Homo sapiens: one gene and its partners. The protein of the gene in region 2 interacts with the protein of the main gene of each other region in a pairwise test. Each region holds a gene or a part of one and is shown on either strand. Other genes may lie near its edges. The genes, in order: SH2D4A, UBXN11 and PRKAA1.

Evidence for each region.
Region 1: the proteins of UBXN11 (region 2) and SH2D4A interact in binary tests that used the Homo sapiens proteins (3 or more experiments, as listed by UniProt).
Region 3: the proteins of UBXN11 (region 2) and PRKAA1 interact in binary tests that used the Homo sapiens proteins (3 or more experiments, as listed by UniProt).

The regions. Positions count from the first base shown.
Region 1 is NC_000008.11:19,316,620-19,320,270, reverse strand, and holds part of SH2D4A (SH2 domain-containing protein 4A), read right to left. Parts: intron 928-3,651; 5' UTR 724-927; coding exon 543-723; intron 1-542. UniProt on the Homo sapiens protein: Inhibits estrogen-induced cell proliferation by competing with PLCG for binding to ESR1, blocking the effect of estrogen on PLCG and repressing estrogen-induced proliferation. May play a role in T-cell development and function.
Region 2 is NC_000001.11:26,286,061-26,289,711, forward strand, and holds part of UBXN11 (UBX domain-containing protein 11), read right to left. Parts: intron 1-3,651. UniProt on the Homo sapiens protein: May be involved in the reorganization of actin cytoskeleton mediated by RND1, RND2 and RND3. Promotes RHOA activation mediated by GNA12 and GNA13.
Region 3 is NC_000005.10:40,774,224-40,777,874, forward strand, and holds part of PRKAA1 (5'-AMP-activated protein kinase catalytic subunit alpha-1), read right to left. Parts: intron 3,364-3,651; coding exon 3,222-3,363; intron 1,281-3,221; coding exon 1,187-1,280; intron 750-1,186; coding exon of another isoform or gene 705-749; intron 1-704. UniProt on the Homo sapiens protein: Catalytic subunit of AMP-activated protein kinase (AMPK), an energy sensor protein kinase that plays a key role in regulating cellular energy metabolism.

The DNA of each region.
Region 1 (3,651 bases), on a different chromosome or scaffold from region 2:
CTTTGATAACGAGGAAAAGTTTACATCTGAGAAACTCATTCACACTAAAAAAAGATAGTATTATGATTTTTTTCCTTATAGCAATTCCTTACATTTTAACAGGAGGTGTTCCCTAAAAAGATACCTCAAAGAAAAATCTCTGAGGTCTAAGAAATGCAAACACAATTGCTATAAATATACTGACACAAGAACTTTGTGTTCTAGTAGTAGCATATTAGGAACCAGTAACAATAAAGGAGATAGAAACCTTTCTTAATACCCCTCAAATCAAACCTCATAGGTGACTTTTTAATACAGCTTCAGGTTAGTCTGGTTTCAAGTAAAAGATTTCCTCATAGCTATGCAACTCCATGGTGAATGCTGTGTGTGTGTGTGTAGACTTCAGGTGGACATACTGCACTATTAGATTCTCAATAACATTTAGGATTCATCTGCCAAACTGGAACTTGCACCTGCTTTGCTTGTGACTAGTGTGAAATTGTCAAAGCAAGCCAGGAGCTGTTCTACCAACACATCCACAGAAGAAACGTGGATAAGTTTACCTTTCTTTGGTCTGGGTTTCACTGGCAGGGACTCCTTTCTTTCCATAGCTGCTTCTCTTTCTTTCCATCGTCGGATCTGTTCCTCTCTCATCTTGAAGAACAGGATCTGTTTCTGTTCTTCGCTGAGCTCTGCCAGTAGATCAGGATCTATGTACATCTCCGACAGTATCTGTTTCAGCATCTTTGCACTTCTGAAGTCTTTTATACTTGTGGCAAAAGTTCCTGAAACTGGCCTCCAGGTGTCCCTCCACCTGTGCTGGCACTTGGGCGTTTCCACGAAACTTCCCAAACAGCTCACAATCCTGGCTGACTGGGACAATAATTCAGCAAACTGGCTACTCAGACCTGGCACCAAATGTCCTGTCCAAAATGCTGTTCACTGAACCTGCAGAGAGAAAGAGCCCACATTCAGGCAGCGTGTTAAAATGTGTGGACACTGGCTAGGACGGGTTTAAAAAAAAAAGCTAGGAGGAAACACAGTATCACTTTTCAGTTCAGAGAGAAAAGAGAAGAAGAAAATCTGAGGCACACTTTGTTAAGAGTTTGTATAACCTCTATCCTGTAATTTCTAAAGATACTCTGTCAAAAAAAAAAAGAAAACAAACCCTAACTTTATACAGGTCAATCTCAGGCAAACAAAAAAAGTTCACAGAGGTTTGTCCAGCTCCCAACTAAGCAAACACATTATTACCCCAGAGCCTAACAAACCACCAACTGTGTGGCTGAAAAAAGAAAGAAAAAAAAAAGTCACAGGAAGAAATTAAAAGGCTCTCTGCAAAGTACCTATTTCAAAAGAAAATACCACTTTTGATATGTCACAGAGTAACTCATCCCAAACCAAACCAAAATAGAGCCATGCTCAAGGAAGAAAAAGGAAGAAATAAAAACTAGACCACCATGCATTTTCTGCAATTTCCCTAAAAAGTAGCATTAAATAAACAAAATTATGTACTTTCCTCTTCACAAAAGGATAATGTAATTTCCAGATAACCTACTAGAGCCATGAAAATCAGGGCAGGTGCAAGAGAGAACATCCATCTACATTCTGGAAGGTCACCGAGTTTTAGGTGTGCTTTTTCCAGATAACCTAGTTTAATAAAATCTAAATGGACAGACCAGATAAACTAGGGGGATGAAGAGGTCATTAGGTTCATAACAAAGGATCCTTCATTTATATGACTTTACCGCATGGCTCCTTGAAAGAGAAACCATAAAGCGAGAGTGCACAGTGGCCTCCTAGAAGTTCTCCTGTGGTTGGAAATCCTACTGAGGTTTCATTCTACTTTCCACATTTCTATTTTAAAATATTGGCTTAAAAATATTACCACACTGTCATACTTTCTCTCTCTATTTTTAAACAATTTCTAAGTCCCATAAACCATCATACTTTTGTAATCAGCAGGAAACTATGTAAATATATCTATTCTGGAAAACAAAAGACTTTGGATTCGATGTAATAAGATATAAGAAAAAAAACTTACTACAACTTTTCAGAATCACATGTGTCCTAAGAAATTGACCAATAGGCCAGGCGGGGTGGCTCACGCCTGTAATCCCAGCACTTTGGGAGGCCAAAGAGGGGGGATCACGAGGTCAGGAGTTCGAGACCAGTCTGACCAGTATGACCAACATCTCTACTAAAAAAACAAAAAATACAGAAATTAGCTGGGCATGGTGGTGGGTGCCTGTAATCCCAGCTACTCAAGAGGCTGAGACAGGAGATCGCTTGAACCTAGGACGCAGAGGTTGCAGTGAGCCGAGATCGCGCCACTACACTCCAGCCTGGGCAACAGAGGGAGACTCTGTCTCAAAAATAAAAAAAGAAAAAAAAAAGAAATTGACCAATAATTTGTTATTTATAATAACACCTCAATAATCTTACCACCTTGCCATGTGCTCTCAAATACGTTGTTTCTCCATACTATGTTCAAACAGTCTTAAACTTCAGACAAGTCACTTAGCTATATTATGACCATCGTAGTGTTGTTGGTTTCTCTTCGTTCACCTTGTCATTGATACAGTTAGATTTGTAATGCCCCTCTCACCATCTGGGGGCCTCCTTCAGCTTCCCGTCTTCCTCCTCTTCCGTGCAAAGTAGTTCCTTGATTTACACCTGTCTTTTGAGACAAGCACGCTCAACAGCTAGGCTACCACAGAGTGGTGTGCATACTCAGCTCTTAGATTCGCTGACTGTTCATTGTGAAGCCAGGCCCTTGATGAAACTACACCTATCCCTACTGACTGCAACCTATCATCTCGGCAGCATTCAACTACCAGAATCCAAATGGAACCAAACATTAAGAGAAAAATTTTAAAGGACTAAAAGTAATATCACGCCCTTCCCAGATCCACTTGCCAACTTTGTATTTTGCATTGAGATACCCTTAAAGGCTTGAACAGCCAAAAAAAAAAAAAAAAAAAAAAATGGATGTCTTGTCAAGATTTCTTGACTTTTGACTTTTTGTTTCTAGCAGCTTCTCAAAGGGTGGAGCCAATGAAATCCACAAGCTCCAAGATAAAGTGGTAAGAAAGGAGACAGAATGACTCCTTGACATTCCAGTAAATGTCCTTAAGTTCAATGGTTGGTTTTCGCAGAAATCACACACGGCAGAAGATGAACAGTTCAGCTGGGGTTGAGACTTCTGCTGTGTTCCCCATTTTGAATGCAGCGAATCCTATTCAAGGCATGGGTAGATCCTAGAATCTAAAACCCTTAAAGTGTCAAAGTCATATTCCTCCAGTCTCCCCCGCCCTGCATATTCCTGATAACACAGCTAACACTTCTTGTACCAGGCACCATCTTAATTAAGCACTCTACATGTGTTAACTCACTTAATCTTCACAATAACCCTTGGAGTCCAGCCCATCACTATGCCCATCTCACAGATTAGGAAGATAGAGCACAGGTCAGCAGCTGGTAAGCGGCAGAGCCGGGCAGTCCAGCTCTAACTCAGCTTCACTGTAATACACAACACAGAGGCCTTTTTGTGAGTTTATTTGTGTGCCCAGAATCAGAACAGCAGGATGTGGTGCCATGTATGAAATTTCAGAATGGAAGCCAGCAAATTCCTGCAGCAACAGAAACGCTGAACTGATGGTGCTTGACACA
Region 2 (3,651 bases):
TGAGCCGCCTTTTGGCTGTCATGTCCCTAGCAGCCCTAGCCTCTGTGGCTCCCTCCCAAGCTGGGCAGTGGTCTTAATGTCTCCTTAACTGACTGCCTGGGGAAAAGGACAACGCTAGATAATAACAGCAGCTGTCTTTTATTGAGCACTTATTTTGTGCTAGGGGTTTACTATCCATATTCCATTCCCACTTCTTATCAAGCCTATCTATAAAGGCTATAATCACCTCCATTTTTTCAGATGAGGAAACTGAGGGTTAGAGAAAGTTACATGGCTTGTGAGAAACACAGTAGTAAGCAGCAGAAGCAGGATCTGATCCCAGATCTGTGTCAGGCACTGGGTTGGCAGCTGAAAAGTACAGGGCAGAGCTCCCAGCTCTGGATCGAGGCCTTCTGGGTTCAAATCCCAGTTCCTCCCTTCTATCTGTGTGACCTTAGGTCATTTAATGCTTGTGCTGCAGCATTCTCTTCTAGAATGGATGACAGTAGTATCTGCCTCCTAGGATGGCTGTAAGGCTCCAAGAAGTAACCATGTTAAGAGCCAGCTTGGAACACGCACCCTGTCCATGTTTGCTACTGTGCCCAACTCCACCTTGCACACATGGTCCTTACGCCAACCCTGAGGCTTAAGGCAGGGGTAATTATTTTTATTTATTTGAGATGGAGTTTCACTCTTGTTGTCCAGGCTGGAGTGCAATGGTACAATCTTGGATCACCGCAACCTTGCCTCCTGGGTTCAAGCGATTCTCCTATCTCAGCCTCCTGAGTAGCTGGGATTACAGGCATGAGCCACCACACCCGGCTAATTTTTGTATTTTTAGTAGAGATGGGGTTTCATCATATTGGTCAGGCTGGTCTCGAACTCCTGACCTCAGGTGATCCGCCCGCCTTGGCATCCCAAAGTGCTGGGATTACAGGTGTGAGCCACCACGCCAGGCTGAGGCAGGGGTTATTTAGTTCCATTTTACACATGAGGAAACAGGCCCACAGAGATGAAAAATGACTCGTCCCAAGCCACTTGGTGAGAGGAGGAACTGGGAAGGGAGCCGGGGCTGACTCTCAAGTCTGTTTCCCCCACCCATCTGCACCATCAGGAGAGGGAGGTCAGAAGAGGGACAGATGGCTCTCAGGGAGGATGTAGGGACAGCTGCTGGCCAGAACAGATATGGGACAGACCTTAGGTTGTGCAACTATTTCTGGGTCACAGACCCCTTTGAGAAGCTGACAAAGCTCTGGCCTCCTCTTCTGAAACACGTGTGGCGCATACAGCTGTGTTCTGGCTTCAGGGGAGAATACGGAGCGGTGGGGACAGCCGTGACAGACAACAGAGCAGAAAGGTGGAGGGCAGGTAGATGCTGGCTGGGTACAGACCAGGGGCCTGTTCTGTCATCTTTGATGGGACCTGGCCCCCAAGTAAGTCATCTGTTTGGGTGTGCCCTACAACACACCAATAACTTTTGGGGCCTCAGAGAGGCTGTTTTTCAACAGGACAAGCAGGCTGCGGCAGGATGTGGGTCAGGGCTCTGGGGACCTAATTCCTTTCCTCTCAGTGGTGCAGTGGCTGTACCAGGGAGGTGCAGATGTGTTTCCTGTTGCTTTTGCAGCAGGTGAAATGGTAGGCCCCAGCTGGCCTTCTCCTCTCCCCTATATTTCCTACCATTGAAGGGGCTATACCTGCCCCCAGCCCCTCCGGGGGCTCCCCACATAGTCCCTGAGATTCCCAGGAAAAACTCGCCTAACAGAATGATACCAAGACACTTTTCTTTTAACAACTACCTTAAGGACAAATAGGCAAACCTAAAAACAATAGCAGAATAGATCATCTCATACAATGCCTGCCTCAACCCTTTTTTTTTTTTTTCCGAGAAAGGGTCTCCCTCTGTCACCCAAGCTGGAGTATAGCGGCACAGTCATGATACTGCAACCGTGACCTCCCGGGTTCAACTTATCCTCCCACCTCAGCCTCCCAAGTAGCTTGGACCACAGGCAGGCATCACCACACCCTGCTAATTAATTTAAAAAAAAATTGTAGAGATGGGGTCTCGCTGTGTTACCAGGGCTCTGTCTTCTTTATAGATGGGGAAAGTGAGGCCCAGAAAGGTCAGATGACATGGCCTGATCAGACCAGACAGAGCCAGGAAGAGCACCAAATACACCAACTCCTAATTCAATGCTCCTGCCGCCTCCCAGGGCCGGGGGTTTTTCAGGCTGATGAACATGGGTGGTTGACATGGGATGGGGTGAGACCAGGGAGGATGCCAAGAAACGACGAAGGGGAAGAGAGAAGCTTGCCAAGAAAATGGCCCTGGCTTAAAGAAGTAAAAGCAGGTGGCCCAGGCAGATGCTGGATATGATAGAGTGGAGATGAGACCAGGGGCCAGGAAGAAGGAACCACAGCTCTGGGCAAACCAGCACTGAGAGAATGAGGTGGGAAGAGCTACCACAGCAGGGCCTTGTGAAGCCAGTGAGCCCCCACCACCCCACCAGGGTTCAACTGAGGCCTGACCCGTGGATGGAGAGAGGTGCAGCTGGGGAGTCACACAGCAGGAGTAAGGTCAGAGGGCAAGTCCTAGGTCTGCCCTGAGCTAGCAGCAGAACTCAAATGGAAAGGCACTTCCTCTTTGAGCCACAGCCATCCTTTCTGTGCAATGGGGAGATGGTAAGAACCCTGTACTGCCTGCAAGATCCAGCTGGTGAACCTGTCTGTAAATGACAGCCCTGTGCCAAGCGCCAGGAGGCAGGCATCACCATTTCTGTTTTACAGATAAGGAAATTGGGCCTTATGAGCTGTCACGCCCCAGATCATGCAGCTTGCAGGGCCCAAGTGACTCAGCCTCAGTGCTCAGTGATCACATAGGCTGCCTCTCAATATTGGTTCTTGAGAGGCTGCTTACTGGGGTCCCTTTTCCAGGGAGAGTGGCAATGCTGGGAGATCACCTCTGAGGCCTCATCCAACTTTGAGAGCCCACGAGTGTATTAAAATGAGAAGGGAGCTCAAGTCCAAGCTCTTTGTCCCAACTCCCAAGACCCTTACTTAGCACCCAGCCAACCCTCAACATGCCCCTCGCCTTGCGCTCTGGTGGGCACTGGAGGGCACTTCCGAGCTCTGTAACCCTGGGCCTCTATGGGCCTCAGCTTCCTCTTCTGTACAATGAGGACGATAAAAGTTTCCACACTTCACAGGGCTGCTGTGAGGCTTGGAGGAAGCGTTTGGCAGATGGTGGCTGTTGTTGTCCCTAGCACCGCCTACTCATCGCTGGGCTCAAGCTGTGCCCACTCACCCCTACCTCCTCCAAGAAGCCTTGCTAGGAGCCACCCCCAACCTGCCTTGAGGCTGCATGCCTGGAGCCCTTGCACCTACTCCCTTGGCCCTCGTCACAGGCCGCTGCTTTCTGCTTGCTTGTTTGCCTTCCAGCCATGCTGGGCACCCCTTGAGCTCAGGAGCATTGAGCCCTGGGCCTGGCCCAGAGTGGCTGGGCCACTAAAAGCAGGGTTGGATCCTGCTTTCCAGAAATGTCTGAGCACCCGTGCTCTGCTAGGCCCTGCCCATCATGGCGATGCCCACGCCCAGGGTCCTGCCATCCTCAGGCTCAGACTCAAGTGAAGAAGACGGGGCGGCAAATGGCGACAATGGCATGTGTAAGTATCACTG
Region 3 (3,651 bases), on a different chromosome or scaffold from region 2:
GCCATGCATCAAAGACAAAAATGAATAAAATGAATGCAGAGAGCACAGAAGGTACAGAACAAGACGGAACAGAGGAAGACTTTTTTTAAAATGCCATCCTCAGACTAGGTTATTATATCTGTGAGGCAAATAACAGCAGACTAAAAAAATGAAAATTTCAGAAAATAAGAAACTTTTGAAATAGAAAATACGGGTGCTGAAATTTTAATATTCAACTGGTAAAACTGAAGAAATACCCACAAGGTAAAACCAAGAAATAAACAACAACAGAAAAGATAAGAAAAATATATATCAATTGTGCCTGTTTCCCATTTCTCCAGGCAGAATTTTTTTTTTTTTTTTTTTTTTGGTAAGGAGAAGCAGGAGTAAAGGGGAGTACCTGAAATAGAAATGAATCATGTTAAGAAATAGTAAAATCAAAATTAACTTGGTTAATAAGTTTGATTTTGATAAAAGTAAATAGACATGCTATATAGAACAAATGAATGAGTAATGTAAATAACTTAAAATTGAGAGAAAAGCTCTCTTTTCAGGGCTAGCTACAGCTCTCCCACAAAGGGGCTTTTGCATACCACATAACCTGGGTATGAGAAAAAGTATGGGCAGAGGGCAGTGTTGAGTTTTTGTATCTGTAACTTAAGGTAGTGTTCAAAATGTCCTACAAAGTTCCTTCCAGCTGTAAATTCTTTATATCTAATTCCTACCTCCTTCGTGGAGCCTGTTTTTACTACTCCAGGTACATCAGATTTCTGAAACCAAAAAATGAATGCAATTTAAATGTGGCTAGAATTGACTAGCAAGGCCTAGATCTTTAAGTAATAATAATATATTTTGTAACGATTAATTACATTAAGATACATATTCAAAGTATTTGTATACCCTGGAAGCATAAGTCTGAGGATTATGAGTTCTGGGGGCTCAAGCCAATTCCGTCATTAATAAATCACGTTACTGTGAGCAATCATATAAGCCGCGAGGCTCAGTATCCACATCTGTATAAACAGGCTAAGGAGATAATCTTTAAGATCCTTTCTAGTTCTACATAGTTTATGATTCTAAACAAATATATGACTAAGGGAACTGGTTATTAAATAGACCTCTTAAAATTGGTTGCTGACATTTTGATGCTAGTAAAGGATAAAGGGGAGTTACAAAATACATACAGAATTAAAGCAGAACAGCTTACCCTTCCATTCTTACAGATATAATCAAATAGCTCTCCTCCTGAGACATATTCCATCACCATGAAAATATCAGATGGTGTACTGATGACCTGGTACCTGGTGAGAGAAAACATTGTCTACAAATATTAAAACACATATATTCATTCATTCAATAAATATTTACTAAGCACCTATAGTATACCAGGTACTAGGCTAGGAGCTAGAAAAACTGCAGGAAACAAAAATTCTCTGCTCTCATGGAGTTCATGTTCCAGGAACCAGGAAACAGACACTAAATAAATAAGCAATATCTCAGGTGGTGGAACATGCTATGAAGAAAAATAAAGCAAATGAAGGGGAATCTTTGTATACAGAGTGCTAAAGGAAAGCCTCTAATAAAGTAACATTTGAGCTGAGCCTAAAAGAAGAATGGGAACAAATTATGTAATTATCTAGGAGGAAAGCGAAACTGGGAGAGGGAATAGCAACTGCAAAGGTCCCCAAGTAGAAGCCTGCTTGGCATGTTCGAGGAATATTAGAGAGAAATAGGATGTAGAGTCAAAGGTGTTAACTGCAGGCCAGAAGACACAGAATTTTACAAGCCATGATAAGGCTTTGGCTTTTACTCCAAGGAAGATGAAAAGCTATCGTACGTTTTAAGCAGTCATGTGATCTGGCATATTAAAAGTAAAACTATGGCAGCAATGTGAAGAATTAACTGTCAACAGTAAAGGTAGCCACAGGAGGTTACTTCAGGATTTCATGAGACAGATGGTGGCTGAGACCAGGTTGACAGCAATAAAGGAACTGAGAAGCAATCAAATCCTAGCTTGATTGTGAAGGAAGAAATGAAATGCATGGTAGAAAGTGAAAGAAACAGGGAAGTTAAAAATGGTTCCTAAGTTTTAGCCCTGGGTCATTGGCTGTTAGCCAAGATGGTGAAAACTGTGGGAAGAGCAGGTTTGGGAGAGTAATAAAGAGTTCATTTTGGGCCGGGTTGAGTTTTAAATGTCTTGCGAACATCCAAATGGAAATGTAAAGTCAGCAGTGAGCAAATAAGTCTGGTGTAAGAAGAGATCTTAAAGCAAGAGATGTACATTTAGGGGTGGTCAGCATATGGATGGTATTTAAAACCTAGCACTCAACAAATGAGAAGAGGTAAGAGTGAAACAAGTTTGAGTCAGCCAGTTCAGGAGAAAAACCTAAGCATCTTTAAGTTATTGCCTGCATAACAAAGCAGAAGCTGAGCAGGAAATAGTTATTTGTAGACTCTATAACTGGCAACTGTAAAACAACAGTAAGATTACTGCCCTTTTGAAACCTTGGATTCCTGAAATTTTGTTATCTATATGTTCAGGTATAAGCAGGATGGGGAAAAACCCTTTCTACTACCGCATTCTCACTAGTGAGGCTAACTGACATCATGTGGGCATTTGGAGGTCAAGAGTTTTTACTAGCAGATCACTGTTGGTTTTACAGCAATGGGGCACCAAACATTACCAGAAGAGCATCTTTCCAGGAGACAGGAAAGAATGAGAAGATAACAGCTGATAAGCACAAGGGCAAAACATGAACACAGGCTTAAATGACCATCAATGGGGTTAGAAAAATACATGAATGGGAAGAAACTTTTATTTTTTTTTGGGACAGAGTTTCGCTTTTGTTGCCCAAGCTGGAGTGCAATGGCACGATCTCAGCTCACTGCAACCTCCGCCTCCCAGGTTCAAGCCATTCTCCTGCCTTAGCCTCCCGAGTAGCTGGTATTACAGGCGCCCACCACCATGCCCAGCTAATTTTTGTATTTTTACTGGAGACAGGGTTTCACCATGTTGGCCAGGCTGGTCTCGAACTCCTGACCTCAGGTGATCCGCCTGCCTCAGCCTCCCAAAGTACTGGAATTACAGGTGTGAGCCACCGCACACAGCCTAGGAAGAAACTTTTCAAAACCCTTAGGAAACAAAAAGAAGTGTCAGTCATTTTTCTCACTTGTCACATTAAGTAGGTTAACAAAAAAGATGAAAAGATGACTGGACTATATTTAATATAAACAGAGCTTACAGTTTAATTATATGAGGATGCCTGAAAAGCTTGAGGTTCTGAATTTCTCTGCGGATTTTTCCTACCACATCAAGGCTCCGAATCTTCTGTCGATTGAGTATCTTCACAGCTACTTTATGCCCAGTCAATTCATGTTTGCCAACTGTAAAAGAAGTAATTTAATAAATTAGTACTAAGTATGATTAATAATATATTTACACATATTCTGGCCCGGTGCAGTGGCTCATGCCTGTAATCCCAGCACTTTGGGAGGCCGAGGCGAGTAGATCACTTGAGGTCAGGAGTTCGAAACCAATCTGGCCAACATGGCAAAACCCCATCTCTACTAAAAAATACAAAAATTAATGGCCGGGAGCGGTGGCTCATGCCTGTAATCCCAGCACTTTGGGAGGCCGAGGCGGGCAGATCACCTGAGATCAGGAGTTCGAGA